Linked DNA regions of Homo sapiens: regions 2, 3 and 4 are each linked to region 1. The links come from fine-mapping of genetic effects on gene expression. A gene starts in region 1. Each other region holds a variant in brackets. All regions are shown on one strand. Distances are between the middles of the regions. Region 1 holds the start of ISCU (iron-sulfur cluster assembly enzyme). Region 2 has its middle 59 kb from the start of CMKLR1. Region 3 overlaps FICD (FIC domain protein adenylyltransferase). Region 4 overlaps SART3 (spliceosome associated factor 3, U4/U6 recycling protein).

Region 1 (8,083 bases):
CTTGGTGGCGGGCGCCTGTAGTCCCAGCTACTCGGGGGGCTGAGGCAGGAGAATGGCATGAACCCGGGAGGCGGAGCTTGCAGTGAGCCGAGATCGTGCCACTGCACTCCAGCCTGGGCCACAGAGCAAGACTCCGTCTCAAAAAAGAAAAAAAAAAAAAAAAAAAAAAGTAGAAATGCTAACCACCTGCCAACCCCAACAGGTTCCTCTGACAATCAGATGTAATGGGTGGGACAAGCTATACCAATGGATGACATCACTATCTCATAACAAAAATATCAGTGCCAGAGAGAGTATTATAAGGAAACTGACACTCAGTAAGGTTTAATGAGTAAACTAGATTAGCAACTTCACATTCACTGAGTGATTTCACATCCAGTGTGGCATCTAGTCCACATTTTAAGTGTAAATCCCACTATGAATAACTTAAAGGAAATCATTTCATCATTTGTTCTGAACCTCTGTTTCTTCATCTGTAAAAAGAGAATGCGGGCCGGGCGTAGCGGCTCACACCTGTAATCTCAGCACTACGGGAGGCCAAGGTGGGTGGATCACCTGAGGTCAGGAATTCAAGAGCAGCCTGACCAACATGGTGAAACCCCGTCTCTACTAAAAATACAGAAATCAGCCGGGCGCAATGGTGCGTGCCTGGATCCCAGCTACTGGGGAGGCTGAGGCAGGAGAATCGCTTGAACCAGGGCGGCAGAGGTTGCAGTGACACGAGATGGTGCCATTGCACTCCAGTCTGGGTGACAGGGCGAGACTCTGTCTCAAAAAAAAAAAAAAAAAAAAAAAGAGAGAATGTGCTCCATCTCTTCTGTTTGCCCCCTCCAAAAAACACCCTACCCTCTCCTCCCTGCCCTGTGTCCCCGAGTATAGACCTCATGCACAGGTTTCCTGGCTCTCCAGCTTCCAGATGGGTCTGCCCAGCAGGAGGCACCAGCAGAAGTTTGGTGGGAGGAAGAAAGAGAGGTCAGGGTATTTCTTCCCCCACCTCAATCCTTGACAGGAAACTGGGGCTGCTTCCCTTGAACAAAGTTATCAGCAGGTCTCAGGTGCCCTCTCCACACAATTCAGATCACACCCTTCACCCCTTCCGGCCCAAAGATGGACACCAGGTTCTGGAGTTACCAGCTATGGGATACTAAACCTTCACTCCCGATTTCCCTACCCACACCTTTATTGAGTTTCTCTCAGATCATCCTAATTTAAATGTGCCACCTATTTCCTGCTGAGATCCTGGATTATACAGTAGATATCACCACCTCATAAGGTTACAAGTGAGAGACCATGTTATGACTAGATGCTAGGCACTGAGCTATAGTTACTGTTACAACAATTATATTATGCAGAAATTGTTGCTCCCAATCTGCAGATAAGGAAGTCGAGAGGGTGAGAGAAATTAAGAAATTCTTACAAGCACATACAAGAGTTGAACAGCTAGAACTGAGGCCTTAACCTCCAGAACCAGAAACCTTTCCATTTCTATTATCACCATCGCGGTCAATATTTTTCTTACCACAAGTTTCATCATCGCCGTCATTCCTACATAACAAAATAACACTCTCTTGCGAATGAGTTTATTTCTACTGTTGGACGTGTGGTTAAGAGTGGGAGTTCTGGAATGGGATCAAAGTACAAGGCCTGACTTGCAGGAAGTGTTATCTTGAGCAAGAAACTTTCCTCCACGAGCCTCAGTTTCCTCCAGTAAAATGGGGATAGATAACAGGGCTTCCTTCACAGGGTCGTGGCGAGGATTCAATGAGATAACGTTTGCAAGGCAATGGGCAGGCAGTAAGCACTCAAATCCGACAGGAGCTACTGTCACGAAAAGCGGGTTTGCAGCCTTGGCGGCTTTATCGCCGCCGAGGACTAGGGAGGCGGGCCAGGACATGGGGACCCGAGGACCTGAAAGACTGGAAGATGCCCGCTGCCCACCCCCGGGCCCACCTGCTCCTCCAGTCTCTCAATCTCCAGCTGGTTTTTCTCCTCCTCTTCGTCATATTCCCACTCGTACTCCCCGGGGGAGCTCTCCGCGGAGGAAGCCATGGCGTACTCATCCCCATCGCTCTCGCTCACGCCTTCCTCCTGCTGATCCCACGCTGGCCCCATGGTCTTGTATGTCGCAGCGGCCACAGCCCGCGATAACACCTTCCTCCTTGTCCTAGCCGCCTTAACCTCATCCTCCTCTCCGTCAGCCTTGGGCCCAGCCTTGGACTCAGCCTCGGGTTCTGAAGCCGAGGTTTCGGCCGCAGTCGCCATCTTGCGCTTCTAATGACTCTCGGGTCTTCCCGCGGCCGCCGAAGACCCGCTGAGGCAGAAGCTGCCCGCGGCGCGCGCCTTATCAAAAACCCGTTTTCTTGCCATTGAAAGAGAAACTGGGAACTTAGATAACAGGAAAATCTCCACATACACTAAATTCACATTATTTTATACCCTGTAAAAGCTCCCACCAGATATAAAAACTCATTATAATGGCATGCGTTCCGTCACAACTTCGGACAGAAGTTGGGTCTTTGGGCAGGAAGTGGAAGCCATAGAGGAAGTCATGGAGCGAGAGTGATGTCTGTAGTGAAGAATTTGGCGCCATCTTGAGAAGGTCAAAGTGATTCTTCGATTAAATGCCTTACTTATCGCCTAGTGTGACCTGGCGCTTGGGTTTACTCTCCCCAGCAACTGCGCCTCAAACGCAAAGAAAACTGCAGGTCCTCGGGGAAGGATCGATTTCACCATTCAAGAGAAAAATCCATTTCCCAGATTCCTCCCCTTTATGTAAACGTCTGGTACCTAGTAGACGTTAAATACACGTGAGTTTTCCGGTTTTATAAGATCACATACTGCAAACCAACAGTAAATTACATTAATACGCATTTCTTTAGAAATTCTTAATTGCTAGGCACTGACATATAAATTGAGTTTGCTGTTGTTTTAGAGAGAAAAATAGACATATTCATTTTTTTTCAATCAGGACATGGTATTCGTTTCCTTCTTAAGCTTCCCATTTTTGAGGTAGGAAAGTATTGGTGTGTGTCTCTATCTCTACCTTGCTCCCTCATTAGCAGGCTTAATGGGCAGGAATTATGTCTGTTTTGCTTTCCGTTGGATCCCCGGGTCTAGTAGAGCGCCTTGACACATAGTAGGTACTCGACACAGATGCTGGCTTCATGATGAAGCAATTGTCCTCGAATTAATACAAAAGGGAAGATTCAGACTCAGCGAGCCGGTACCATTCGTCTAGGGACACACAGCCAGGAAGGAACCGAACCAGGATTCTAACCCAGGATTACCCAAGTTCGAATTCTAATTGAACATAAGTCCTTAGCGACCTTGGACGGACTTACTAAACTGCCCTGAATCTCGGCTTCCTTAGCTGCAAAATAGGGTTAGGAAAAGTGGACTCGGTGCTCCTCTGCGCCGCATTCCCGCAGCGGGATTTGTGAAAGCGAACTTGAGCCCCACACTGCAGAAGCCCTGAGGTCCTGTCTCAACCAGAATCCAGCACCCAGGACAAGCCCTCCAGCGACTTCAGACCTTCCCGCTCCCGACCCCGCCCGCCCCCGAGAGGCGTGGTCAAGGCGGGGCCAGAAGGCGGACGCGTGCACGGAGCGGTAAAGCGCAGGCGCAAAGCTTCGGTGACGTCAGAGAGGCGCGCTCCCAGCTCGGAGCCGACTCGCAGACGCGCCCCGCCCCTCGGCGTCGCTCTGGACTGGCGCAGGCGCAAGCCGGCAAGATGGCGGCGGCTGGGGCTTTCCGTCTGAGGCGGGCGGCATCGGCTCTGCTGCTGCGGAGCCCCCGCCTGCCCGCCCGGGAGCTGTCGGCCCCGGCCCGACTCTATCACAAGAAGGTAGGGACAAAAGAGGGACGCGCGGAATGCCGACTCAGCGGAGGCCTGGGCTGGAGGGGCGGCCGCGGGGTTCTGCGCAGCTAGGACTGGGAGCTGTCCCCTCCCACGTCTTTGCCCTGACTCGCTTTCCCTTGCTGCGCAGTGAGGCTCACTGCAACTGATAAACAACAGTTACCGCTCATCGGGCGGCGACTTCCAGGGGGCCCCGCCGCTGGCCGCGACTTCGTGCGTCCCAATTTTAAATTCGCCAACAGCCCAGGAGGCAGGGTCCTGTTGGGACTTGTCTTTCTGAGTCCAGGGACAGACACACCCCCGGAGCGGGCTCCGGCTTCAGCCACTCCGCTGCCCTGGCCAGATGACCTTGGGCTAGTCACTGCGCCTCTCTGAACCTGTTTCCCCAGGTGTAAATGGGGGGCTCTCAGCTGTCCCTTACAAAGGATACTGTGCGTGGAGTCCTGGCATGGTTCCTGGCACATAGGCCCCAGCACGAGGAGACCGTTTCTGTTACTGCTTTAGGAGTGCATAGGGGAGTCAGGCTTGTAACCAACATGCGTAATGTTTTTGTTTTGTTTGGGGGGTTTTTTGGCGGGGAAGGAGGGATAGATTCATAGTCTGCAGCCCCTTGCTGTCTGGTGGCACAAAGTCCCCCAGACGTGAGACTCCCACTCGAGAAACAACTAAAGAATGCCATAAATCAACGTGGCACAAAAGGCCCCTACATTAGATACTATCCTGAGGTCCCTTTTACTTGGAGTCAAAATCCTTAGTCAGATGGGGGGAAAAGGGGACTGGAAGATCGGCGTGCTTACTACTAACCAGTAACCAAACCTCAAGGTTATTAAGGCCTTCTGTGTGCCAGTTCGAATGGATGTTTATTGTGATCTGGCTTCTGCCCTTTCTCCAAGGGCTTCTTCACTCCTCCCCCTCCCGGGGGTGTGTTTTGTTGAGGGTACACCCTGAAGAAACTTGGACTAGCAGCCTTTCAGCAGCCAGGGTGCGCTGCTGCACCAGGGTGATGACAGGCTGTGAAATACGGTAATGGCACTGTTTTTATTTTAAAAGACACATAAACGTACACATTCCATAGCATTGTTCCCTGTGTAACAGTCACCTTAAGGCTTCTAAGAAAGCTTTCCCTCCCTGGGCCATGGTTATTTTTAGAATTTTTAAATAGTAATCATCCTTTGAGGATGGATTTTATTTGAAAATAACAAAACTGCTGTTTGAGCCCAAGTCTGGTGATGTAGGTGGGTGAAAGTCAAGTATTTTTGTAAAAATCCTATGGAACTAAGACATGATTTCACTGATTTTTTTTTCTTCTAGGTATCTCAAATCTGTGAAGTATTGTAGAGGAGACACAAAAGGAATTGGGGGTCACAAATGGTTCTCATTGACATGAGTGTAGACCTTTCTACTCAGGTGAAATTTGGTATTTAGTGATTGCCTGCCAGGTTCAAGATGCTGACCGAGGAGCTTACCATCAAACCAGAGACCAGTACCAATAGAGAGTGAACATGATTTATCTTAACCCTCTCATTTTAGGTTGTTGATCATTATGAAAATCCTAGAAACGTGGGGTCCCTTGACAAGACATCTAAAAATGTTGGAACTGGACTGGTGGGGGCTCCAGCATGTGGTGACGTAATGAAATTACAGGTATGGCTAGTCTTTTTTAATAGTGATAACAATAATCCCTTTAAGTTTACAAAGCACTTGCGCATTTCACTTGGTCTCCATCTTTATTCCTGTGAGATCTCCAAGCATTTCACTTGGTCTCCATTCCTGTGAGATGGGATGAGTCCATGTTAGATATGACTGGAGCAGGGCCTCAATCGTAGCTCTCCTGCTAGGCTAGTGTACTATGCCAACTTTTTCCAAAATAGAAAAGTAATCTCATTTTTGTACTCACTGTATCAGTTTAAATTCTGACTTCAGCCAACTAAAGAGTTTTGTGAATTTTACTGATCAAAGGAAAATCCCAGTGAGCTAGCAGTCCCCAATGAAACAAGAAACACAGTAAATTAAACCTGTCCCCAGATTGGGGGAAACATGAAAATAGTGTCTAGTGCTTTGGGTAAACTGTAGTTGTAGCACCAATCTGCTGCTTCATGGTGAGTGGGCAGCTTGCCAGAGGTCTTCATACCTATCTTGGAATACAGAAACAAAACAGGAGGAAACCACTAAGTGTAATCTGCTGCCCAAGAAAAAAGTATTAACCAGAGACCTTTATTGTGGACTCTGTCAGTGTTTAAAGAGGCCAGATTGCCCCAGCAGCTGTGAGCAGACTTCCACAAATAGAAGTTCATAGCCAAAATGCAGGCCAGAGTCACAAAACAAAAGAATATTGGAGTGGAGGGACATATTTTTCAGCTGATCTTTGTCAGTTGGGCCTGGATAGTTGTCCCTGCATTTCACTTTTCATCACTGAGCTCTTTGAAACAAGGCAAAGTCAGTAATTAATGCCATCACTTAGTGTGGAAAGCAAGCCCAAAGCCCTTGGGGAAGGCCCTGGTGAACCTTCGTGAGTGCCAGGTTCCAGAGGGTGGTCCCAGGACTCACCACTTAACTCTTGTCTCTTTTCTAGATTCAAGTGGATGAAAAGGGGAAGATTGTGGATGCTAGGTTTAAAACATTTGGCTGTGGTTCCGCAATTGCCTCCAGCTCATTAGCCACTGAATGGGTGAAAGGAAAGACGGTAAGGTGGCTCACAAATCTAATGGGTCAAAAACAAGTAACCATGACTTTTTTTTAATATTCTAAATTTTTAAAATTTCTCCTATGCAGATGTTGATTATATTATCATTTCTTCAAATTGGGAATTATGGATCATTCTACTAGGTGTTGTTTGGGTTTTTTTCTTGTTGATCATTTTTATTTTTTTGTTTGTTTGGGTGTTAATTACATATAAAAAAGATCCTCACCTGTCCCTCTAACAAAATAGAATTTAAAAGAAATCTTTGGCTTTCTCTAAGGTTACCAGTGCTCTTATAATTTCTCAAGTCAGAGAGTTGTTATAAGGTAGTTATTTTCTTGTTTATTTCCTCTCATGTTTCAGGAAGGGTTCTAGGTGGCTTTCAAGAATTGGTGAAATAAACTAGCCTGTGTTAAAAGAGGGATTAAATAATCAAAAAGACAGCAAGGGTGGGGGCAAAGTGAACAACGAAATCAGAACAGTGATCCAGGTGGCTGATCGCAAGCCCTCTAAAGGCAGAGATAATAAAGAGCTAGAACTTCTTTTTCATCCCTTTGTCTCCCAAGTGTCTTTCCCTGGTAGCTGCAGAGGTCAAAGGTCCCAAACACAGTGAAGAGCTGGACTTTCTAAAATCCAGTTGCTGTCAAAACCTCTCAGAAAAGCCAACCAGCAAGGCACTCATCTTTGCTGCCCCAAGGGACCAGGTTCAGGGAGCTGAGTCACAGAGGAGCATGCTTGGAAGCTGGCCAGCTCCACAGCAGAGCAGTTTGCCAGGCCACGTGCCACCTGCTTCCTGTGGCTCACGGCCTTCTGGCTGGCAAGCCCCTGTGGGCCAGGAAGCTCAGACCTAACCTGCTGTGGCAGGAGGTAGCTCTGAAGTGATTTGTCAGGAACTGTCCTCAGGTGAAGGGAGAAATGAGACAAGGCACTTTTGCTCCCAGAACCTGGCCCTTAGGGGACTGTGAATTGTGATCAGAAAATGGGAGAGAGGACATTTCTTTAACCTTGAGATCTCCCATCTGAGTTTCAGGAGCAGAACCTGAATCAACCAAGAAGGGTTAGCAGAATTGGGAAACTGAATGATAGACATAGTCAAAGAGTCTGGCTGTTGGGAAATCTGGTTTTCTGTAAGGCAGTGGGGCACTGTTCTACATGGGCAAGGATCTGCCTGCCTCACATTATCCCCCAGGGCTGTCAACCAGACCCCAGGCATCCTCTTTAGTTGATCTGGAGGAGATGCTCCTATAGGCAAAGGGGACACCAAAGAGAGCATTCGGCCTGACTCGGCTGTGCCACTGCCACTGTGCTACTTACCTGAAATCTTCCCAACCTCTCTGATGCCATTCGGCACTTCTAGTCAAAAGGATTTAGGCTAACATTTGGTATGAGGACATCGGAGAAGCTGATATTCACAAAACCAGCATAGGAAATCACTACCTTTTAAGGAAGAGATTCCTGTTACAGGCCACAAGCAGATCCCTAAGAGACTTCTCACAGGTTCCACTCCTGACTTAGAGAAGTGTCTGGGCTGTCTTTGCTTACCCAAG
Region 2 (8,104 bases), 280 kb before region 1:
GTTAAATCTGCTGGCTTCCTAGGGCTTAAGTGTGGGGCCTCAGAAACTCAGCTGTACTGGAGCAAGAACCCATCAAGAAATTACAGAAACAATAATAAAAAGGAACTAACCTAAGCGTCCATCAGTAGGGGATTGGTCAGATAAATTGCAAAACTTCTATGTCTACTAGGCAATCACTTGAATAACCAAACCTGCATAGAGGAACATTTAGTGAACTGATTTTTTTTTAATTTTATTATTATTATACTTTAAGTTTTAGGGTACATGTGCACAACGTGCAGGTTTGTTACATATGTATACATGTGCCATGCTGGTGTGCTGCACCCATTAACTCGTCATTTAGCATTAGGTATATCTCCTAATGCTATCCCTCCCCCCTCCCCCCACCCCACAACAGTCCCCAGGGTGTGATGTTCCCCTTCCTGTGTCCATGTGTTCTCATTGTTCAGTTCCCACCTATGAGTGAGAACATGCGGTGTTTGGTTTTTTGTCCTTGCGACAGTTTGCTGAGAATGATGGTTTCCAGCTTCATCCATGTCCCTACAAAGGACATGAACTCATCATTTTTTATGGCTGCATAGTATTCCATGGTGTATATGTGCCACATTTTCTTAATCCAGTCTATCATTGTTGGACATTTGGGTTGGTTCCAAGTCTTTGCTATTGTGAATAGTGCCACAATAAACATACACGTGCATGTGTCTTTATAGCAGCATGATTTATAATCCTTTGGGTATATGCCCAGTAATGGGATGGCTGGGTCAACTGGTATTTCTAGTTCTAGATCCCTGAGGAATCGCAACACCAACTTCCACAATGGTTGAACTAGTTTACAGTCCCACCAACAGTGTAAAAGTGTTCCTATTTCTCCACATCCTCTCCAGCACCTGTTGTTTCCTGACTTTTTAACGATCACCATTCTAACTGGTGTGAGATGGTAGCTCATTGTGGTTTTGATTTGCATTTCTCTGATGGCCAGTGATGATGAGCATTTTTTCATGTGTTTTTTGGGCATAAATGTCTTCTTTTGAGAAGTGTCTGTTCATAAATAAAAATGTTATAGAACAGAGTATCTTTTTTACTAGATAGTTATTAAAAGATACAGACATATAAACTAGACTTTAGATTATAAACTAAAATGATAATAGTACTTATTCCTGGGTTCACAGGTAGTTTTCCTTTAATCAATCTTCCTTTCTTTCACTTTCTCTTTCTTTCTTTCTTACCCTTTCTTTCTTTCTCTTTATTTTCCTTTCTTCCTCCCTCCCTCCCTTCCTCCTCTCTTTCTTTCTTTCCTTTTCTTTTCTTTCTTTCACTTTTTCCTTTCTGTCTTTCTTTCTTACCCTTTCTTTCTTTCTCTTTCTCTCTTTCTCTTCCTTCCTTCCTCCCTCCCTCCCTCCTTTCTTTCTTTCTCTCTTACTTTCTTTTTCTTTTTCCTGGTTTATATATACTAAATTTTTTGCCAAATATGATGAGCTAATATTAAAAAAAGAGAAAAATTATTACTCTCAAGGGATAAGGCATTCTGATTTTCTGAGAAATAAGTTCTTACTTTTTAGGAGAGCCCACCCCACCAAACACCATAATTTTGCTCAGATCCAATAATTTATGTTTTCTCCTAACAAAAATGTGAATCTCCGGCCTGAACAGGTTGGTCATTATTTTTTAAAGTGTCTCCTGTCTCTTCTGTAGGAGACACCACTCAGTGCCTATCCCTAACCCATTCCCCTTCTTCCATGTAAATGAAACCCTGATCTTGTCTGAATGTCCACTTCTTTGTCCTGTGTCCCCTGGGTGGATCCTGATTGGTCTAAACCAATCTTCTTTCCTTATCAGTGATTGGTTTAGCAGTAGCCATGTGACCCAGTTCTGGCCAAAAAGGTGTGAGGGGAGTTCTGCTAGGGGGTTGGGGGCGGGGGCAGATTCCCTTGCAACACTCTGAGATAATCAATGGCTCTTCTACTTGATGCCATGGGCAGCTGCAATATCTGATACTGTGAGTGCCATCTTTTGACCAGGAGATATGTCATTTTGGGGACAAAGCCAATCCTCTGAAGATGACAGAGCAAACAGAAGGAAACACTCTGGATCCTTGATGCCAATATTCAGTTGCTGAGTTCTCAACCTCCAGGCATTCTTAGTATGCAAATGAATGCACTTTTCCTATAGATTCTACCGTTTTGAATGAGGTCTCTGTTACTTGCAGTCCAATGCATTCTAACTGATATAATCTTATTTCTTTCAAACTTTGCTTGGTTTATTTTAAACCGTGATTCCTAAGATAAATGTTAAATAGCATAGGGTATCAAGACTTTTATTCGTGTAATATATATTCCTAGCCTTTAAAGATATACTGATTTTCTGTTTCTGTGCTTCTCAAGTTTACAGGGATTGATGTGTCTGAACCAAAATATGAGAAGATGACTGAGCAGTTGAATGAAATGGAGGATCACATCATGGAGTGGGAAACCGGAGCCGGGCATGGACATGTCCAAGTTTTTGCCATGTCTCACTGCTAATGTATTGTGAGACTAATTTTTCATCAGAGATCCTGGGATGGGCTTGACAATACTGATTATAGGGCTTTTTATCTCTGACATGTTAAGATTGAACTAGCTGTTTCCATACATCTATCTATATCTGTGAGGATTCTGTGGCCAGCAGACCGAAATGAGGTTTATAAAAGGATAGAATGCCCAAGGAATTCAGGAATCAGAAAGTGGGGACATTTCAGATTCTAATAACCTGCAAAACCAATCGTCCCTATAGGGAGAATGGAAGAAGCTAGGGAGCCTCCACCTATTCCCTGTTTCTTTATCCTTTAACCTGCCTCAGTTCCTGCAATTTCACCTTTAGCATGCCATTCACTTGGGTTAAGCAGCATCATCTTTTACTGCTTTTTCAAAGGAAGGAAAAGCTATTGGATTAGGTCACTTTTCTGTTTTGAGAATTCAGGGATGGGAGAGCAGTTATTGACAGGTGCGTCATAAAACCCAGAATCAATCTCAACTCAGCAATCCCTAGCCAAAATGTGAGTCTTCTCTAACTCCTGACAAGTTCAAGGCTTCATAACATGAAGTCTTTCCCTTTGCTCTGTCCTAATTCCTCTGTATCTAACTTATTTAACTCAGGAAGGATATGTAGTAAAAGAGTATAAACCACACAGTTATACAGCTGTGGGTTCAAATCTCAGCTCTGCTGCATGCCAATACATTGCAAGATTCATGAAGGTCAGGATGGCATCTGCAGCTGTATCCCCAGAGCCTAGCACATTGCCTGCCATATAGTAAATCCTCAATACAAATCAATGGGTAGATTCTGTGTGGTTCTGGGAAGCTTACTTGTTCCCACTGAACTTCACTTCTTCGTTTCTTTCTTTTTTTTTTTTTTTACTTTCATGCAAAATCTTTATTTGGAACATGTGTGTTACTGAGCAGGCCAGCCGCCATCCTGAAATAGCAAGGGTATTTACATTGTGCAGAGAAACATAACAGCTCCTTGAAGACATTCATCTGTGCTTGGCCGGTATTTTATCTGGTACTTTGCTCTGCTTCTCTCTTCCCTGTGCTCATTATTCTTCATGCACCCTCACTCCTTTTCACCTTAAGGCATCCTGTACCAGCTGACCTATGGGCAATGACCGAAGCCAACAATCAGCCGCTACCAATTGTGTCTTTCTGGGACCCATTCTACCTGCCTTAGGTATTAATGGTGCCTAAAGAAAGAATAAACAGATGAAAGTTTCTGTGGTTAGCTGGCCATGGTGGTGCACACCTGTAGTCCCAGCTACTTAGGAGGTTGAGGTGGGGACAGCACTTGAGCCCAGGAGCTCGAGGCTGCAGTGAGCCATGATCACACCACTGCACTCCAGCCTGGGCTATAGAGCCAGACCCTGTTTCAAGGAGAAAAAAGTTTCTTTGGCGTTGCCAAGCCTTGTCTTCACCAAATTTTAGAAGTTTTTTTTTTATTTAGTATTTCATTTTATTCTTCTACATATAAAATCAAATGGTCACTGGATTAGTAAATTTGAAAACTTTCTGTGTGTATTGACCATAATCTTAACTACTGTATCCTTGAAACATGGTATAAATTTTTGATTAAAAGTAATTCACTCTGATTTTTTTAAAAATCTACTTGTCAGCCAGGCACAGTGGCTCACACTTGTAATCCCAGCACTTTGGGAGGCCAAGGTGGGTGGATCATGAGGTCAAGTGTTCGAGACCGGCCTGGCCAACATAGTGAAACCCCATCTCTACTAAAAATACAAAAAAAAATTAGCCAGGCTTGGTGGCGGGCGCCTGTAATCCCAGCTACTCAGGAGGCTGAGGCAGGAGAGTCACTTGAACCTGGGAGGCGGAGGTTGCAGTGAGCCAAGATTGTGCCACTGCACTCCAGCCCAGACAATAGTGCGAGACTCTGTCTCAAAAAAAAAAAAAAAAAAAAAACTACTTGTCAGGAGCTCATTGCTTTGCTAGTGTCCACTGCTCAGCCAGAGATAGTGGTGAATGGCCTGTTTGCATTTCTTGAAAGATTTCCATTCTGCTGCTCAACACAGGTTTTCTGCCTTCTTTAGAGTCTGAGGTCCATCCTATGGTTTTCCTGATTCTGGAGAATGGCCTGCAGCCTCCCACTTAGGGCTTGACTGTGCTCATCTAGTCCATCCCAGGGCTGGAAGGGACATCCCTGGTGGTCCACAAAGGTGACCCAGCAGTGCCTAAACTTCCGGAGGTCATGATGGAGATTTGGGTCCCAGCCC[T/C]CTGCAGCATGCACAGCCCCTCATATCCTGGGAGATAATTATAGATGCATGCAGCGAAGATGTGCAGGCTCACACATCTGTTCTCCCAATGAAATGTAGCCACTTGCTGGGCACAGCTGAAGCAGGGACTCCAGGAGATGAACCAGGTGACCCTGTAGCACTGAGCCCGGTCCAGCTTCCAAAAGGAAATCAGGTACAGGAAGCACTGCTCTGCATGGAAATCTTAATAGCAACTGAGATTATTCAAAGCCTGGCTGGGTAGGATGCCCTTGTTGCTGGTCCAGAGGGACCCAGGCATCATTGTTTTGGCACTCCACCTTGCAGCACAGGTAGGTCTGGTGCTGCCCAGAGACTGAAGGATCATTGGTAAAATTGTAAGTGAATGTGTCTGAGAATCTCCCCCAGCATGCTGTGCAGTAATGCATAATTTGTATTCAGTTGCTTCCAAGGATCAAATAGCATTCTTTGGTTGTACACAAATTTGTCCCAACAGTGTTGAAATTCATCATAGTTCATGATCTTCATGCTGGCATGTGGACTGTTTTTTCTGACACCATCTGTGAAGCTCCTCTTGGTAATCTGCTTCCCAGAAGTAGTAGAGGTGGGCAACGAAGATGGTCAGGGTGACCTTGCCATCCTTGGCCAGGAACTCTGCCACGTTCCCTGCATACTCTGAGCAGGGACTCCAGGAGATGTACCAGATGACCAGGTAGTCCTGGTCACGATGCAGCCTCGAGTTGCAGAACCAATCTACGAATCTCATCTCTGGGTGGTGTTCAGGCTTGGAATAGACCTGGCCTCCAAAGATCCTTGCGTCCAAAGGGGGCTTTGAGGGGTCCTTCTTTGTTTTCATTTTGTAGCACAGCCAGGTGGTGTTCCAACCTGAGAGGATGGGTCTGTTTTCAAAGTTGTAGTAGAATGTGCCTGGATACATCCACTCCATCAGGTTTCTGATCTGAGGCTTCATGTGCAGCCTTCTTGGCAGGCTTGCCCTGACCATGATCTTTGTCTGAAATTTGTCCCCTGTCCCTACCTCTAAGATGTTTCTGCTTAGCTTCTCTGACAGTGAGGGCTCGAATTTCAGCTGACCCAGCATTTCTTCGTTTCTGAAGACAAGGTGGTTTTACCATTTAAGCTTCTGATAAGGATGAAATAGGTTGACCAATGTGGAGTTCCCTCTGGCTGCCTGTCACCATCCCTAAAATCCCATCACAAGTCAATCCTTCCCAGTAAGGCACTGGTGCCCAGGCAGTGGGCTAGGTATTGTAAACTGCCTGCCATCCACCAGGCTATCATCTGCCAGCAGGCAAGGCTGAGAGCCTCCATTCCACCTCCCTGTATGGAATTTGCTCCACAACCGCAGTCCCAACATCTGGAGGCAAACTGGAGACTTGTTCACTCATCTTGATGTTGCTCTGAAGGTGGAAAACATCTGCATAGTGGAAACCAGGGAAAAGATACCCTGGATCTGCCTCTTTCTGTGTTAGGCTTCTGGGCCCCACGGGACCCCCAGGTATTTGGCTGTGTGTTGGTGTCTTAGCGTCATCCAGTGTCCAGCACAGACTTTAATGCCCAGTTGACTATGATTTCTAAGTGAAGGGATAAACACAGGAAGTCTGTGGTCACAGTGGTACCAGCCAAACCCTTAACAGAAACCTGGTCCGGAAAAGAACTACAAAACAATATGAGGAGGAGGGAGGCATCTGGTTCCTTTATTTTCTGGCTGTAATAAATCAGACAACAGGGAAAAGAAAAGGCCAAGGGAGGTGGAAGCACTTGATAGAAACCTCCTTTGTCTGTGATTACTCTTTTTTTTTTTTTTCTGAGACAGGGTCTCACTCTGCTGCCCAGGCTGGAGTGCACTAGTGTGATCTTGGCTCACTACGACCTACGCCTCCCAAGTTCAAGCGACTCTTGTGTCTCAGCCTCCCGAGTAGCTGGGATTACAGGCGTGTGCCACCATGCTCAGCTAAATTTTTTTGTATTTTTAATAGAGACGGAGTTTCTCCATGTTGACAAGGCTGCCCTCAAACTCCTGGCCTCAAGCGATCTGCCCGTCTCAGCCTCCCGAAGTATGGGGATTGCAGGCCTGAGCCACCGCGCCCAGCCTGTGATTACTCTTAATGGCACAAGTAAAGAACTGTGTCTCCTCCACTTCTAAACTAAGTGACCTGCGACCTCAGTTTCCATGTTGGTGAAATGAGGAAAAATCCCACCCTCCCCAGGTTTCATTAAGATAGGAAAAAAATGTGAAAATACTTTGGAAACGGTGTATTATAAAAGTGATTGTCATGAAACTCGATGATGATGATGGCAAAAATAATGTCAGCTTATGATAATGTCTTCATTCATTCAACCAGAAGTTATGAGCAGCTTTTCTGGGCTAAGCACTGCTAGGGATACAATAAGGTGGCCAAAGTCCCTGCCATCTTGCTGGATCCAAGTAGGGGCCAGACTTAAGGCCACTAAATACACACATAATAATATGATTTCAGATGGCAGTAACTAGTATAAAGAAAACACTAATACAAAATAGGGATCTGATAGGCAGCGAGTAGGGATGGAGGCTACCTTAGCATGGCCTGTCTGAGGAGATGGCATTTGGACTGAGACCAGAAGGAGGCGGACGAATCAGTCATGCAAAGGGAAGAGGCAAGTGGGCCCAGAAACAGCAGGAATAGCAAGTGCAAGGGCCTGAGGTGGGACCAATCTTGGCTGTATTGTTGCTGTTGATCTGTTTGTTTCATTTTGCTTGAGAGGCAGAAAGGATCACCTAGCTGGAAAGCAGCATGAGATGAACTTAGAGAAGGAGGCAGTAGCCGATCACATAGGGGTTTTGATGCCATAGTAAGGGCTCTGGATTACTGTATTCTGTGATAAAAGCTCACTCTGGCTGCTTCCTACAGTGTGGGTTGAGGGAGCAAAGACAGAAGTGGGGAGGCCAGCAAGAAAGCCGATGCATATTCAGATGAAAGAGCCTGGCACCTGCTAAACGCTAAAGTGCAGCAATCTCACTGAATCCTCACAGCTGCAAACCTTTATCATGCCCTTTGTCATACAGAGGAGAAAACTGAGGCTTCGGAGGCATTGAATAGCTTGCCCAAGGTCACAGAGCCTAACTCTAACCCTGCCCTTAGCTGACGTAAATAGCAGAGCTTGGATTCGAGCCCTCGCAGTCTGATTCCTGAGCCTACCTGACCCGGTGTCATAAACATCAAAGTCCCTTTGAGTCAGGTGGTGAGGCTGGGGAGGCCCCCAGGAGGGCTTAGTCCTTCCTGAGACTCTACCTCTTTGGATGGATGCTGCAGGAGCCACTGCCCTCTAAAATGCTCTCTTGAATCAAGGACA
Region 3 (8,090 bases), 40 kb before region 1:
ATCACATCTACCACACAGTGGCCATCGAGGGCAACACCCTCACCCTCTCGGAAATCAGGCACATCCTGGAGACCCGCTACGCCGTGCCCGGGAAGAGCCTGGAGGAGCAGAACGAGGTCATAGGCATGCATGCAGCCATGAAGTACATCAACACGACTCTGGTTTCGCGCATCGGCTCCGTCACCATCAGCGACGTGCTGGAGATCCACAGGCGGGTGCTGGGCTACGTGGACCCCGTGGAAGCCGGCAGGTTTCGGACAACACAGGTCCTGGTCGGACACCACATCCCTCCCCATCCGCAGGATGTGGAAAAGCAGATGCAGGAGTTTGTACAGTGGCTCAACTCCGAGGAAGCCATGAACCTGCACCCAGTGGAGTTTGCAGCCTTAGCCCATTATAAACTCGTTTACATCCACCCTTTCATTGATGGCAACGGGAGGACCTCCCGTCTGCTCATGAACCTCATCCTCATGCAGGCGGGCTACCCGCCCATCACCATCCGCAAGGAGCAGCGGTCCGACTACTACCACGTGTTGGAAGCTGCCAACGAGGGCGACGTGAGGCCTTTCATTCGCTTCATCGCCAAGTGTACTGAGACCACCCTGGACACCCTGCTTTTTGCCACAACTGAGTACTCGGTGGCACTGCCAGAAGCCCAACCCAACCACTCTGGGTTCAAGGAGACGCTTCCTGTGAAGCCCTAACCCTAGAAATCCTCAGTGACAAAGGCTGTCCTGAGGTAGGAAAAAAAAAAAGAAACAGCATTTCTAGAAACCTAGTCACTTCCTAAAGCAAAAGGAGAAACATTCTTTACCTCCAAATGTTTTAGTTTTAAAAAAAAAAAAAAACTAAGTTATGAAGCCTTGTCTCTAAAATAACTTATAATTCAACCAAGCTATTTATTTTCTTCTTTGGAGCAAGCTAGTCAGTATTGTATGGTGTCTGCTGTGTCTTGCTGGTGGCCGTGCTTTAGGGGCAACAGTGCCACCATGTGACCAGAACAAAGGTTCTGGAGCAGAATTTGCACTAAGGTGGAGGAGCGGCCAAGAGGTGTGGGACGGGGCCCAGAGCCACTGACATAACTCCTCCAAGTGCTTCTCTGAAACAGGCTGAGAGGTTCTGTGACTGCAACTGGGAAGTCAGACCCAAGTCGCAGCTGAGAGAAATGGTTGAAAGCTCACTTTCTCAAGGTTTAGATTAGTGGTGACTAACTTCCAAGCAAACTTCATAGAAGAGAAAATGAATGCCGACATTCCTTACTTACCTGCAGGAAGACTTTTTGAGCCATAGTTTGCAAACTTTAGTGCCAGCAGCTGTTTTTTTTTTTTTTTTTTTCATATTGAGACTATTTTTCTAATTAAGAATAGGGGGTAGCCATAAAGAGCTGTATGTTGGAGGGGGAAACATGGTGGGCGGGCAGTTTGGTTTTCTTTGTGTATCCGCGTTTCTCTCACACTTCATTTGTAGCAACTCAGGCCAGATGTTTTCGTCTGAAATTCTCTGGGCTTGTCATTCCACCTGTATCGTGCTGCAAACCAGGTGTTATGCTAGTAGGCATCTGCCCTCACCCCTCTGCCTGAGTTTTCTGTAGGCAGATGTTAACCTGAGAAAACAAGTGCCATGTGGACACCAAGTAAGCATTTTTGATAATGAATTAGAGCACCAGTTTCTACTGAATGGAGCAAAAACCTTCAGCCATGGCCAGGCTGCATCCCTTTGGTCCTGGAGTTTCATCTACTTACTGCCATCTTCCACGGTCTTTGCACTGTCCCGTGTCCCATCCCCCTGGGAGGCAGAAGAGATTGCCTCGGAGTGGCCTTATTTTTCTCGCAACTTGTGAAATGATGTAGTGCTCTATGTAATATGGCCGGGTTTCCAAGCTGTCATCCAATGGAAGTAGAATCTTCTCTTTGAATCATATGGTACAGGTGCCAATATGACTGCTGCTATTTAGAGTCAGAGAGGTGGAAGTCACTGGGTCCCTTTCCCAGTGACAGAGCCCATGATGTCTAACACTACTGCACTTTGTCAGTGTGTGAGTGATGGCGAATACGCAGTGTTGTCTCTTTGATTTGGTAATTCCGTTCCTGACAGTAATGAGGCCACTGCTCTAAAGTAGTTTATACAGTTCTTCAGTTGTATAAATAGCACAGAGTAGTTTTTGAAAGGTTAAGAAAAATAAGTGAAAAGACATACACGATATATGAAATGGCTCCAAATGATAATTGTTCAAACCTTTATAAAATGTGTTTTCGTACTCTTATGCTGCCAGAGGTACTTCTTAAAACTCTTCTCGTCTTGGTTTTATAAGCACACCACGGAGGTCTGACAGATGTGCTTGCTTCTACTACAGAGCAAGAGAATTTGCACTTTAGCTATATGTGAAGGATATTATTTTAACAAATTCCTGATTCTAATAAAGTTATTTTATTACATGAATGCTTGAGACTGTCTTATTTGGGAGATGTTCCCATCTGTCATAAGGGCAGTGGGGGTATTCTGACCTTTAGCCCTATTCATAATACTGTTCTGGGAGAGCAACAGATCCAAGATGGTGATTTCCATGGGCAAGAGACCCAGAAGTTGGATAAACCGCCTACCTAGGTGGGCAAGGATGAATTACTGATTTTTTTTTACTAACAAACAGTCAAGTAACTGAAGTAGTTTTTCACATTTCTATTTATCATCAGTTCTGGATTTTCTGGGGAAAACACACAAACCCACTCATGTAGTCCTGGAAATCCATTTCTAGAACAGTCAACACCCGGAACCTAACTGGGTTCTGCTCAAGCCTGAAAAGGTTTGCCCCTGTACCAAGCCTGGGCTGACATCTGCAAGTGTGACATTAAGGTCAGAATACTGGCTGCAGGCAAAGCCAAACCGTTAATGTGAAGCAGCAAAAAGTAAGGCCACACTCACCCATAGTGATATTCAGGGCTCTTCATGTGTCAGGTCCCCAACCATGAGGGCTCTGAGCTACCCAAATCATCACACCAGCTGAACAGTCCATCAGCCTTCCAAGCAGCATCACAGAGAACACTGCAGGAGGAACGCGTGGGACAGCAAAGGTTCTTGCTGCTGTCAATAGCCGCCGCTTGAATTTAATTCAGAAGTAAAGCCTAGTAAAAAGTTGGTTTTGTATAAAAAAGAGATGGAGGGGAACCTACCTTTTAAGACTTAAGAGGCTTACCAACCAATAATTTACAGGGAGGAGAGCTGATATTTGTAGGAAGGTGGAAATTTGAGTGGACAGTTGATGACATGAAGGGATTACCACTAATGTTTCTAGGAGTGAAGGCCTTTCAGTCCTCCTGAGACACCTGCCGCAACATTACTGGATGAGCAC[A/G]ATGACATCTGGAACGTGCCTCAATATAACAGAGGGTGGAGGGGAAACAGACATGAAGGAAGAGGGGCTGGGAGTTGAGGAATGCTGGAAGCTGAATGGTAGGCACACAGGAGTTTATTTTACTGTTCTGTCTACTTTTTAATCGGTTATATTAAAAAATGTTAAGTTAAAAAAATATAGAAAACCCGACTGATGCACAAAAACTTAAACTTACGCAACAGATAAATGAGGAGTTGATTCCCACGACATATACAAGGATTCCCTGACGTCTTTCTCCAGAGTGTCTTAATAAAGCAAGCTTCCCCTACTGAACTGGCCAATGCTGTTGCTGTTTTCAAAGCAGTAAATATTATTTGATAAAAGATGTGAGGTAAAAAAGCTCAAAAGCTCCAGTGTCAAACTGCTATAAAATGAAGACACATCACAGCTGGAATAATTTAAATCAAAGTGACAATGGGATTTGACTTACAAAAGTTCTATTTACACATCTATTAGGTAAAGCAAGGTACACCCACTTCAAAACACATCTGTATGTGAATGCACATCTGAGTACCATTCAGCAAGAAGTTTTGAAGAGAACGTCAGTTTAATAAAGCTAAATGGGGAGAATTGAAGTTTGCATTTGACATGGTATTAAACAAAACCAAAGGGCTGAAACTCATGTTTAGACAACACAGGTCACTAGTCACTAGGCAAAGAAAACAGTCCACAGCAGGTGGCACAAATAATTCCTATACAAAACAAATGTTGCAAATATTCTGCTTTTAGGAAACATGAAACAATGGCTGACATGTCATTTACAAACACATAATATAAAAATGCACAGCCCCATTGAACAAAACTCCAGCAAATGTTTTATAGCTGACTTCCCTCAGACCCACCCCCACAAGAGGCCATTCTGTGAATTACTAGCATCTGCCATTTCATCTTTTAAAATTAAAAGAATGACGGGCACATGTGCTGTGCAGGGTGGAAGAGAAGTGTCATACAAAAAGGGGCCGGAGCTGGCCAGAAACATTTGGACAACTGTGTCTCAAAAACAGTGTGTTCTCGTTTCGCTTCTGTGCCTCAGTCTTTAAGATACAAAACTATCTCAGGACACCACATCCTGGGCCCAGCCTGCAGAGTGGTCACTTTTCTGCCACTGCCCTCAATATGAGGGAGCACTGAAAGGCTCTTGACTTAGAACCCCTTCCCCTTTCTGTCTAAAGCCGAGGAGCCATCTGTGGTTGCGAGCACGCAGCACACCAGGCCTGTCCATCCCCAGTGCACTGCTGGGTGGTGGGAGGTCCGCCGGGCCAGAGTGAAGTAAGGCATTTCCTGTCTCCCAGCGTCCCGTTCACTTTCTCAGAAACAGCTTGGCAAAATCGGCATTGGACATCTTGGGTGCCTCGGTGGCTGCTGGGGCGGCAACTGCAGGAGCCGCGGCAGGGCCGTTCTCAGCCTGAGGAGCTGCAGCACTTGGGCGCTGCAGGGCACGAGGCAGTAGAGACAGCTGCGTCCTTCCCTTCCCCCTCCTAAAAGAGCAAACACTGAATGGACCTTTTGAAGCAACAATTCGTGGCCCCTCATTTATTTGTGAAAATAAGCCAAGACAGTTTTAATATAACCAGAAGTTAAAAGGTGAAAAAAAAAAAGGATAAGATAATCCCTGCCTCCTTAATTCTGTTTATGAAGTAAAAACTGCTTCAACAGACTTGGCCTTGTTCAGTTTTGGCAAAGATCAACCCTGAGCACCAGTCACACTCAGAGGGGATCAGTGTGACTATCACCTCTCAGACCTCACCAGTCACCTGGCAATTCTGCTATCTCCTCCTCATCCCAAACCAGCGAACAGCACAGCTTATGTGGATCATAGCTAGGGCCGTAGACTGGCACACACATGGGTATGAGATTTCTTTGTAAACACACAGATCCAACTGGCAAAGGGGACTTTAAAATAATCACTGCCTTATTTCTGTCTGAAATAAATGACAAGTGTAAATTGGCCAGTACCAGGCAGAGGTCACTGCCTAGGCTTGCATCCTGCTCTGGACGCCTTGCTCCAGTGGAACCACAGTGATTACCACAAGGAACAGCACATCTTGGCTTTTCTGTCCTAACAGGAAGCTAATTCATCCCGGGTTAATCCCCCCGTGATCCATGAACTGGTGCCAGCCAGGACGAAGTTTGCACTAGTCTACCATGCAAGCACTTACGCTCCGTATGTCTGCGGCAAAAGCATGGGGCCACCTGGTGCCTTCCTGGTCTCCGGCTTCTCTGGAACTTTCCTCTGAGGAGGGTTGCTGATTGCCACTTTGATGATGTTCTCTTTGATAGTCATGCCGTCCATCTTCATCACAGCCTGCGACGCCTGGGATTCATTTTCATACTCCACGTAGGCCAGGCCCTGGAAGAGGCAAGATCCAGAACCAAGTCAGATCCCGCAGACTAGGGACGCAACCTCCTCCTGCAGGGCAGGCACTGGGCTTCCTCCCGGAGACCAGCAGACCAGGCCACAGCAAACGACCCACCAACAGGTTACCTTCCCCACCACCGCATCCTCTGTCTACAGGCTTATTTCCCCACCCTACTCTCCTTCCCGAGTGCTGCTATGCACTGTAACTTCAGATAACCCTTCCAAGTTCAGCACACCTTGTACGTGCTGCAGAAGTAGAAAGAAAGAAGGAAAAAGACAGATGGACCAGTATAAATCCAGCAAATAAACCAAGAGGTGGATGGGACACAGGGCCAGCAGCCCAGGTGCCCAGGTGAGCCCTCGTGTTTCTGTGCCTTCACCCGCTCCCTCATTTCATCCTCTTTTTCTCTCCATTAACCTGGATAAAGGGGAGGGAGAGTGGGCAGTGGGTAGACAGTAATGAAACCACTTACTACTCAAAATGGGGCACAAAAGGACTTAGCAGGAGACTGAGGGGGCAAGAAGGAAAGACAGGAGAAGAGGCACTGCAATGGAGGGACTCAAGGGGCCTGGTTGGAGGCCCCAGAGAAAGAGAGGCCTGGGACAGAGGGAGAAGGCTGCAGGAGGGCGCCCACCCCAAAGCCCGTATGCTGCTGGTCACAGGGCTTCCCCCAAGCCCCACAGCCAGGGGCCATAGTGTGGTGAATTCATGATCCTCTATTTCCAAGTGTCTTATTCTTTTTAGTACAATTAACTACAAACAGGTTAATCTGACTCCAAATATAAGTAGAGCTAAGTGCAGATCTTTCTGTGAAATTAACTTTTGTTTCTCAGCAGACAAACTAGGAACCCATTCTAGAGGTTAAATCATCTTTGAACCGATACAGAAACGAAGTTTGCCCAAGCCTTGAAGACAAGGCACAATCTGCTCTGACTCTGACCTTTGGTTTGCCAGCCCGGTTGGTGACCAGCCTGAGGTCCTTCACGGTGCCATGAGCCTTACAGATTTCTTCTAGTTCCTCTTTAGTACAGGAGAAAGGCAGGCCTGAGATGAACAGCTTGTGTTTCTCTAGGGAAGTGCTGTACCTGAACACCTATAGGAAGAAGGAAGACAGAGAAAAACCATGATTCGAGGCATGACCCAGCTCACCTGACTCCTCTGACACCAGCCTTGTCCCCATGAGCAGCCCAGCCAGGCAGACTAGAGCCAAGCCATGCTCTGAAACTTGTTAATGGGGCCACCGGAGCGAGTCACTTAACCTCTCCAGGCCTCCATGTCTTCCTCTGTAAAACGGCAAGAATAAAAGTAACCATTCACAGAGTCTCATGAGGAGTCAATGAGCTGACACACATAAAGCATTCAGCACAGTCCCTTGTCATTGCTAAGCACCCAGCAAGAAGGAGCCATGCCATGAGTCAGACCTCAGTCAACCGGCTCAGGATGGACCTTGGCTCACAAGGAAGTTTAGATCCAAACAGAGCGTAAAACTTCCATGTCTATCCTAAATATCACTGCTGCAGGAAGAAAGTGCCTGTCTAAAGCAACCACAGATGAAAGGCATTCTTTTTTTCCATAAACCTACCTTAAAATCGGGGTTTTTGCTCTTATCCACACAGGGGGAAACAAACATTGGCCTCCCTTCTACACTTTTCCGGTCCATCTCCAGTGCCTGAAGGGCTGATTTCTCTTCTTTAAACTCCACGTAGCAGTAACCTCGGAAATCCCCACGGTTGCTGAAGATGGGTCGGATCTGGACCACCTCCCCACAGGCCTCGAAGAGTGGCCTGAGCTTCGTGTCCGGCTCCTGCATGCTGTAGGGCAGGTTGCTGACAAAGACGGTGATGCTGTCCTTGCTGCTGTCGTGCAGCACCTTGGGCATGTCCCTCTTCAGGGAGGCTGCCTTCTCCTTCTGCTTCGAAGGGGGCTCCACATCTACGGCAGCACATTTCCCAGCGGGCCCTGCTGCTACTTCTACATTTTGTGTTTCTCCAGCTGCAGGGATGCTGTTCTCGACCCTTCTGCGTTTGGAAGGCTGCTCTACAGGTTTTCAAAAGAAAAGTAGCCATGGTTAACTGTTACTTCTCTTCAGGGAGCTTGAACAGAGGTGTGAAGTGAAAGTGCTGTGACAGCTGCATGTGACACTTACTCCCTCACCAGACTCGGAGGGGCAAGCACCACCCCGAGAAGTCTTTTGTGATCCGCCTGACCTGTCCCACGACTTTCTGTGCCCCAATTACACTCGGGTAAGTGGGCTCAATCAAGTGGAAGTAATAACATAAATCCCCATTGTCCACTCTTAATTATACAAAAGGTCAGTGGATCTCAAAGTTCAGAAGGCAAATTCC
Region 4 (8,104 bases), 27 kb before region 1:
GTATAACGCACAGTCCCCCCCACAGAGAATTAGAACCCTGTGCTACAGTGACATCACAGAGTCCTCCTTGTAGCTGCAGAATTTGAGAAGAGCTGCAGGAGGACTCATTTTCAGGACACTTGTGACAGTCTAATCATAGGGCACCACCTAAGGTGGCAGCATAAACACAGTCTGTCCCCAGACTGTAACCAGATGCTCCTACTTGAGACCAAACAGCAAATGGGTTAGGCTCCAAGCCAGAAGAGAGCTGGGGGTCCCACCTTCTGTCCTCTCCATGGTGAGTAACACTTCGCAGACGTGCTCTGGGTAGTCACTGGTGCACTGGACGGCCCGGTGCAGAGCCTTCCGGCAGTGCTGGGTGTCACCATGAGCTCTAAGGCAGAAAACAAAAAGTTGCTGCCACCAGGACACAAAGTGGAAGGCACTCGAAGGGAGAGGCCGTCTTCTCCCAGGTAGAAACTCACTCTTCAGTAACTCTAGCTTCTGAGAAGACCTTAGCTTTCAGATCTATCCATGATGCTTTCTCCTTCCAGAGTCTCTACAGTCACCTACGAAGTATTTCCCTGAAGCACTCTCTCCCTCAGCCATGTAGGGGCTACTGGAAAGTGTACCTGATATTGTGATCTGCAACCAGCATTCTGCCTTTACAGCATTCACATGTGCGGCACATGGCGGGGGAGTCCAACAGCTCTCTGTAACCTGATACAGTCCCCAGGGAAATTTTACTATGGCGTCCTACTGACAGGAGAGTTATGAATCCAGGGTAGTGTCAAATTTCATACCCAGAGTCAGATCTTTTTTTTTTTTTTGAAAGGGAGTCTCGCTCTTGTCACCCAGGTGGGAGTGCAATAGCACGATCTCGGCTCACTCCAACCTCTGTCTCCCAGGTTCAGGCAATTCTCCTGCTTCAGCCTCCTGAGTAGCTGGGATTACAGGTGCCCACCACTACACCCAGCTAATTTTTGTATTTCTAATAGAGACAGGTTTTCACCAGGTTGGCAAGGCTGGTCGCAAACAGATCCTTTTTGTACACTGCTAATCACAACAGCTACACAATTCTGCTAATCATAACTGTTATGCAACAGTGTATTCATATTTGTTTTTAAAACATTTTAAATATACATAATTATATATACATATTATGATGCTCAGAATAAATTCAGAGCACTGGTTCTCAAAGTAAGATCCACGTACCCCTGAGGATCTCCCAGAGCCTCTCAGGGGCCCTGCAAAGTCAAAACTCCTTTTATAATAATACCAAGACATTACTGGACTTTTTCACTGTGTTGACATCTTCAAGACAGTGCACAAGTAATGGTGGCCCTTAGCACAAATCAAGGCAGTAGAAATCTTTTTAATGCACTGTGTGATGAAATACTAAGTACACTTAAAGCCCTTCTGCATACTGAAGTACAATGGTTATTGCCAAAAAAAAAAAAAAAAGCATATTACTGTTTGAGTTGCAAGCTAATCAAGTCATTTTTTTCAAGGACACCATTTTTACTTGAAAGGAAACTTGAGTGACAAACCACGGTCAGTTACTCAGACCTGGGTATTTGGCAGACATTTTTGAAAATTAACAAAGTGAGGCTGCCACTCTGGGGAAAACCACTGACATTATTTGTTGCATGTGATAGAATTCAAGCTTTCAAGTGAAAATTAGAATTTTGGAAAACTTGTATCTGCCACCACAAGTCTGACAGCTTCCTACTTAAAATACTTTTCAACTAAGATCAATACAGATATGAACAAATACGATTTTTTAATACTATAGGATGAAATATGTCAACATTGGAAGAGCTGCATGATTTAGTGAATTGGGATTTTTCCAAATAATGTCGTAGAATTGTGGCATCAAGTAAAAGATAAAATAGACAAATGGGTATTACTGTAACAGACTCTGTCAATATGGTTTCAGATTCCACATGCAACACTGAAGTTTTGCTATAATATGTATGAAAGAAGAATACCCACAATTATCTGAAAATGCTTCTAAAATACCTTTCTTTCCTAACCTCTTCAATGAAAACAACAGATCACAACAGACAGAATCAGTAACAGACATGAGAATTTAGCTGTCTTCTCCTAGGTCAGAATAATGTGCAAATAAATATATTTGCAAAAATAGAAAACACTGCCACTTTTCTCACTATATTATTTTGGGGTCTGGAAAACAGTCACTGCTCAAAAAAGATATTAATGTTAGATAATTTGTTATATTTAAATAAATTAAAATGTTTTTTAGATTTCTCAATTTATAAATTATAAATATCAATAGATATAACTCACATACATAAAAGTTTTTTGGGATCCTCCAATTTTAAGAGTGGAAAATGGATCCTGAGACCAAAAAAATTGTGAACTGCAGATCTAGGGGGATATTCAACAAGCTTTAACAGTGGTTATCTCTGGGGTGGGATTGTAAGAAACTGTCACGTTTAGCCGGATATGGTGGCTCATGCCTGTAATTCCTACACTTTGGGAGGCCGAGGTAGGAGGATCACTTGAGGTCAGCATGACCTACATGGTGAAACTGTGCCTCTTCTAAAAAAAAAAAAAAATCCAAAAATTAGCCAGGTGTGGTGGTGCACGCCTGTAATCCCAGCTACTCAAGAGGCTGAGGCAGAAGAATTGCTCGAACCCAGGAGGCAAGGTTGCAGCTGAGACTGCACCACTGCACTTCAGCCTGGGCAACAGAGTGAGACTCCCCACCTCCCCCGAAAAAAGAAAAGAAACTGTCGCTTTCTATCACATATTTTTGTAAATATTCTAATTTGGGCACACAGTGTTTTTTAAATAGGGAAAAAATCTTCAAAAAAGAAAACCCAGCAATGTAGCAATGTTATGCAATGAACAACGTTCAAGACAGACTGAAAAGTTGGTCACATTCTTTATGTTTTCCCCATGTTATAAATATTGTTAGGCCTATCTTATTTCGTTCAAATAGTTTTAAAGGCTTGTAACACATGCATGCTATAATTGCATTTTCATTACAAAAAAATTTAAACATAGAAAAGTCTCAAAGAATGGGTCATGGTTATGACTGGGTCAGTAATTTGAGTTTTTTTTCTCTTAGCTTTTTAGTATTTTCTACTTTTCTATAAAAGCAAATATAAAAAACAAATAGCTCCAAAAGGTCAAATAAAATATCATGCCCAAAAATCAAGACAAAAACAAATTAAAAGAAATGCATGGCTATAAGAGTTCCAGGCACAAAATATCATGTCTGGTTCTCTAGCCCTGCCCATTAAAAATGTACCCACTACTGAAAGAGACAGAATGAAAGAAAACAGCCCAGTTCTAAGGAGCTAGTCCAAGCTGGTAGGAGTCAGCCAGGAGTGAAGACAGGTGCACAGCTGACAAGCACTGCCTCCCTCCCCACCCCGAGATCAGTTACCTTTCCAGGTTGTAATACTCTAGCCACATGTTGGCGTACTTGGCATTTCCTCTGGTCATGATGCTATCCCAGAGTTCCCGAGCTTTCTGCATGTTATTGCACAGTCGAGCCTAAAGTGCATCAGCAGGCTGTTAGGAGACCTGAACCTTATGACGTCGACACCCATCATACAACACACTTCCAACAGACACACATAAAAAGCACCCCACAACTATTAGTGTTACAGATGTCCCTGGGCATTCCCCAGGCCTCCCTCCAGTGGTAAACGACCCAGCCCAAACACTTGAGCCTTTCTGCAGCCACAAGCTAATCTACCTATGTTTCCTGAGAACCGAGAGAGGGAGCGCACGGTACTTACTCGACAGTACTAGATAGTCACGTTTTTTATTTTTATCAAGCTTAACTACAAGTGTTTGAGAGACAATGTTAAAAAAAAAAAAAAGACTGATCTAGTATTAAATGCACACTCTGCTACTAATACTTACAAACTGTGACTTGGGCAAATTACTTAACCTGTAATTCTCAGTTTTCTCATCTTTAAAATGGTTAAAAGATAAGCATCCCATATAAAAACTACCTGACAAATGTTAGTTTCTTCTATCTGACGCTCCCTCCGAGGAGAAAACATGATTAGAATTGTTACAATCCTACCTGCTGATCAAGGGAGGTTCCGTGTCTTACTGACCTTGGTGTCCCTGACCCAGTAATGACATTCAAGTCATCATATCCTCTAATTACTTGTCAAATCATCTGTCTTCTACATTAGATAGAAGCCTTACTAGCAAAGGAATTTTATCTGTCTTATTCCCACAGCACCTAGTACAGTGCTGACAAACAGTACACGCTCACTGTGCTCTCACAAATGAAGCAAAGAGGCAGAGACAGAAGTAAACGAGTGAATACCTAGCATCTAAACATTTACTGCACAACTTCTAGCTGGGAGCTAATATTTTCACCAACATATTTACAAATAT[A/G]TGTCAAGCTAGGTAAATAACATGAATCCTTGTGGAGCCTAGACCATTACCTAGGTAATAACATAAATCCTTATAGAGCTTAGGCCATTATCTGGGATTCTGACTCAATTTTAATTAAAGTTTAATAGGATGCTATTAAACAATGATGGATGAAAGTGCTAGATGTGTCAAAAACATTTACCTCAATCCTAGCCCAGTTCTGCATAATCACGCAGCTTGGATCACCACTCTCATTGAAACCTTCAAAAACAGAATTAGTAAAATTAGAAAGGAACTTGGAGACAGATAGTCGCTGGCTGAAAAGGTACATCAACCAGGAAATAGTACAGACAAGGAAATACAACTGGGCAAAACCACAGGCTGGGGCATACTTACGCTCTTCCACCTCCTGCTTCAGATACTCCAAGGCACGAGTAAAGGCGGCCCTCAACTCCTCCAGCTCTTTACTGGAGTCTAACGGAAAGTGCAAAAAAAGGCTTTAGGAAACCACATAGCCTGGCTTTGTTTTATTTTTTATCCTATGCTGAAACTGCCTGGAGACCCACTATGTACCTGGCATCATGCAAGGGACACAGAAATAAAATTGCCAATTCCTGCCCTCATCACATAGTTGGGGAGAAAGAAATTTGAACAGAATAGAGCATGGACAGCGTGGTGAAAAAGGCAAACACAGGGTGCTGTGGGGGGGAGTCTCCCCCAGCTGGGGTGACACAGGCAAACAAGAGAATGGCTAAAGGCTACCTGTATGAGGTGACAGCTGACATGAGTGTGCAAGTACAAGTTAGGGGTTTTCTGGTTGTTTTCGGGGGGACATGAAGGGGCAAAGGATCCCACAGAGGTACAAAGATTTTTCTAAAACACAGCAGACTTATTTCAAGAAGTATTTAGGATAAATAAAAAGACCTGAAAGGAGAAATGAGAGCTAAGACTAAAAAGGCTGGCAGGAGCCAGTATAAACGATTACTCTCTTGCTTTACAATCCACATCATGACTTGTTAAAGACAGAAATTGCTAAGATTTCTGGGGGAAAAAGTCACCAATACCTAGTCTACATCATTTGCCCAATCACAATGTATCTGGGGAACTGGGACATCTCGCCAAAAGTTGTATTAAGAACATGTTCAGCTCTAAAGTGAAAAACATGTGCTTAAATACCTTGTTTGAAATCAACCCTTCTCCTCAGGTAATCAAGGTATGCCTGCCAAATCTCCACATAATCAGTGGCCTGGATGAAGCCGGCATTCAAAGCTTTCTCGAAGGTTACTGGAGTTGGAGAAAAGTCAGGATTTGTTACCAATTCAAATGGAAACTAATAGAAAGTCACTACATTCTACTGACTATAAAACACTACATGACTTTAAAGACTAATAGATGCAACAGAATGAAATGAGCTAGACAGGAATGTTGAAGACAGAAGTTGCTACAGCACTCTACAGACTGTGTTCTAGAAAAAACTTCTTCCACAAGACGCCCTGCAAGAAAAGTTCCAGATCAAGGAAGTTTGGAGAAAACACTACAACTTCTTAGAAAATACAATGAATATTAGCATGTTAAAAAGCTCTAAGAAGCCACAAATATAACCAGTTCATCTCTCACTCAGAGCCCTTTTTGTCACTACACTCCATAACCCAAAGAAAACCCCAGGGAACACTGATGTAATGACTTTGTCACCGCTCTCTGTTTTTCACTTGGGACAAATAGCTTAGAAGTTCTCCCACAAAAACATCCGCACCAGAAATTACTTGATGATCAACTCCATGTCTCTCCATGGCCAAGAGGTACCGACTCCATAAGGCAACTGTCCAGGGGCAGTTTCTAATAGCGCGGTTATGTACAGATAAAACCAAATCCTTTACTTTCAGTTGTCGATCCTATGATAAAGAATTCCAGAGTTAGGAAATTACACTTTATTAAGCATTCACCATCAACAAGACATTGCCAGCACGACCAAGTGATGAAAGAAATGTCCTTATAAACATCTCTTGTGACCTGGTTTCCTCAACAACAACAAAAAAATCACTAAGGGGAGTGGAGGAGAAGGAGAGGAGCAACTTACAGGTTAAAACAGCCTTAAAAGACGTCAGCCAACCCTACTGGATAGACCTCATTTGGATCCTTTTATACAGACACACTGAAATATTTTATATACACATACTGAAATATTTACCAACGAAATATCATTTCTGGATTTGCTTCAAAGTAACACAGAAGGGACAAGTAGGTGAGACTACAGATCAAAGTAAACTAAAGCTATAAATGTTACTAATTGTTGAAGCTGGGTGAGGGGTACAGAAGTTTCATTTTACTGATCTGTCTACTTTTATATGTTTACATTTTTGCCATAATAAAAAGTTAAAAGAAAAATATCAAGTTGTTATAAGTCCTCAACACAGACAATATGCTCATTTTACTTACAGTTAGTGACCATTTTTAAATAACTTGAAACACTAAAACTTTCTAAACGAGTTGGCAAAGAGGAGAAAAAGCAGATGGAGGAAAAGCAAGAGTAGGGCCGTATGCAACAAACTCCTGGCACTCTTACTGATTTTAAGTAGATTCTAAATTGGCAAAAATAAAATGAAATTAGAACAGTGATCTTACTAGGTACTGACTGTAACGGATCCATAAGTCTGGGACAAGGCAGTTCTCGACCAGGGCGCGCTCAAAGATCAACTGAATGCGAGCAGGATCGCCAATTTTCATCTCAAAATCGATATATGCTTGATATTCTGCCAGCCTTGGTGCCTCTGCCTGCAACTGGAGTACAGGAAAATTGTATTGAATTTAGTTACTGGCAGGAAGCACAACACATCTGCAAATAAAATAAATTTTGGCAAAACTGGCTACAGTAACTATGAATCGCCAAATCCTCACTCTCAGAACCACTCCACTATGGCCTCTACAACTTCTTGAGCAAAACAAGAGTCTTCTCATCTGGTCCAAAGTGCCAGTTCATGGCAGTCGCTACAAAGGCTCCATAAACTCTTTTCTAAATCCATTCCTAGACCACAGGGAATTAAGTAGCCCATCAATCAGGAACTGAGTGAAAGAGCAACACCTTTGCCAGTGACCACTGTCAACCACCCTTCCAAACCAGAAGTCATGTTCTTGGGCTACTGAGTAGAGTTAATACAACCAAACTGGAAAATTTTGGTGCCTGATGCTATTTCAGGTTTCTTATTCCAAATATCAGTTCCTGGAAGAATGTAGATAAATGCAGAAGATGAAGGCAGCTGTGCTGAATGTTTAATGATCCAAAGACATACAATCAAATTCTTTTTAGAAAAAAATCTTATTCGACATGTTTTCTCTTCAGGCACATTTTGCTGATGGCCATGACATAATTGAATGATCGAAGTTTTGGGAAGCACAGGTACATGCAAATCATTTACACATGAAAAAGAAAGGATGAAGCAGTGCAGGAGAGTAAGAGAACACACAGACTCCATATGTAGAAAGGGGATGTTTCAGGGCCTCCATTTCCAGTAACGAGGAAGAATTAGTTACCCAGACACACTGTACCATTCAAAACAACTAAAACTGCTAAATTAAATATAATATCTTCTTAAAAGTCATCAACAAACTGGCAAAGAAACAAGAAATACTAAGGACTAAGGACAAAATCTAAATGAGGGTGGCAAGCTAAGTAAACATTAACCTTTTGCTGGCTTGACGTATATTAAGAATCTGACCTTCACAATCCTATTGTTGGCAAAGAAAGATAGAAAAAAAG

Evidence for each region.
Region 2: its variant is fine-mapped to the expression of ISCU in caudate (GTEx, PIP above 0.99).
Region 3: its variant is fine-mapped to the expression of ISCU in whole blood (INTERVAL, PIP above 0.99).
Region 4: its variant is fine-mapped to the expression of ISCU in skeletal muscle (GTEx, PIP 0.94).

What each region holds. Positions count from the first base shown.
Region 1 is chr12:108,558,893-108,566,975 of GRCh38, forward strand. ISCU (iron-sulfur cluster assembly enzyme) reads left to right here and starts at 3,704. Exons shown (of 5, transcript NM_213595.4): 1 at 3,704-3,844; 2 at 5,387-5,500; 3 at 6,429-6,539. The coding sequence starts at 3,731. SART3 (spliceosome associated factor 3, U4/U6 recycling protein) reads right to left here and starts at 2,281. Exons shown (of 19, transcript NM_014706.4): 1 at 1,951-2,281. The coding sequence starts at 2,262. RefSeq lists enhancers at 2,360-2,419, 2,430-2,529, 3,384-3,443, 3,514-3,593, 4,124-4,193 and 1 more and silencers at 3,804-3,923, 4,884-4,933.
Region 2 is chr12:108,276,513-108,284,616 of GRCh38, forward strand. It overlaps the pseudogene LOC196469. Among named protein-coding and RNA genes, the nearest start is that of CMKLR1, 59 kb to the right of the region's middle. The variant T/C (reference allele first, on the strand shown) is at 4,757.
Region 3 is chr12:108,518,772-108,526,861 of GRCh38, forward strand. It overlaps FICD (FIC domain protein adenylyltransferase), which reads left to right. Exons shown (of 3, transcript NM_007076.3): 3 at 1-2,439. The coding sequence ends at 704. It overlaps SART3 (spliceosome associated factor 3, U4/U6 recycling protein), which reads right to left. Exons shown (of 19, transcript NM_014706.4): 16 at 7,328-7,782; 17 at 6,686-6,838; 18 at 5,545-5,735; 19 at 3,443-4,863. The coding sequence ends at 4,686. Among named protein-coding and RNA genes, the nearest start is that of FICD, 7.5 kb to the left of the region's middle. RefSeq lists an enhancer at 5,825-7,024. The variant A/G (reference allele first, on the strand shown) is at 3,347.
Region 4 is chr12:108,531,962-108,540,065 of GRCh38, forward strand. It overlaps SART3 (spliceosome associated factor 3, U4/U6 recycling protein), which reads right to left. Exons shown (of 19, transcript NM_014706.4): 7 at 6,973-7,128; 8 at 6,104-6,242; 9 at 5,527-5,634; 10 at 4,747-4,824; 11 at 4,553-4,611; 12 at 3,398-3,507; 13 at 261-373. Among named protein-coding and RNA genes, the nearest start is that of FICD, 21 kb to the left of the region's middle. The variant A/G (reference allele first, on the strand shown) is at 4,372.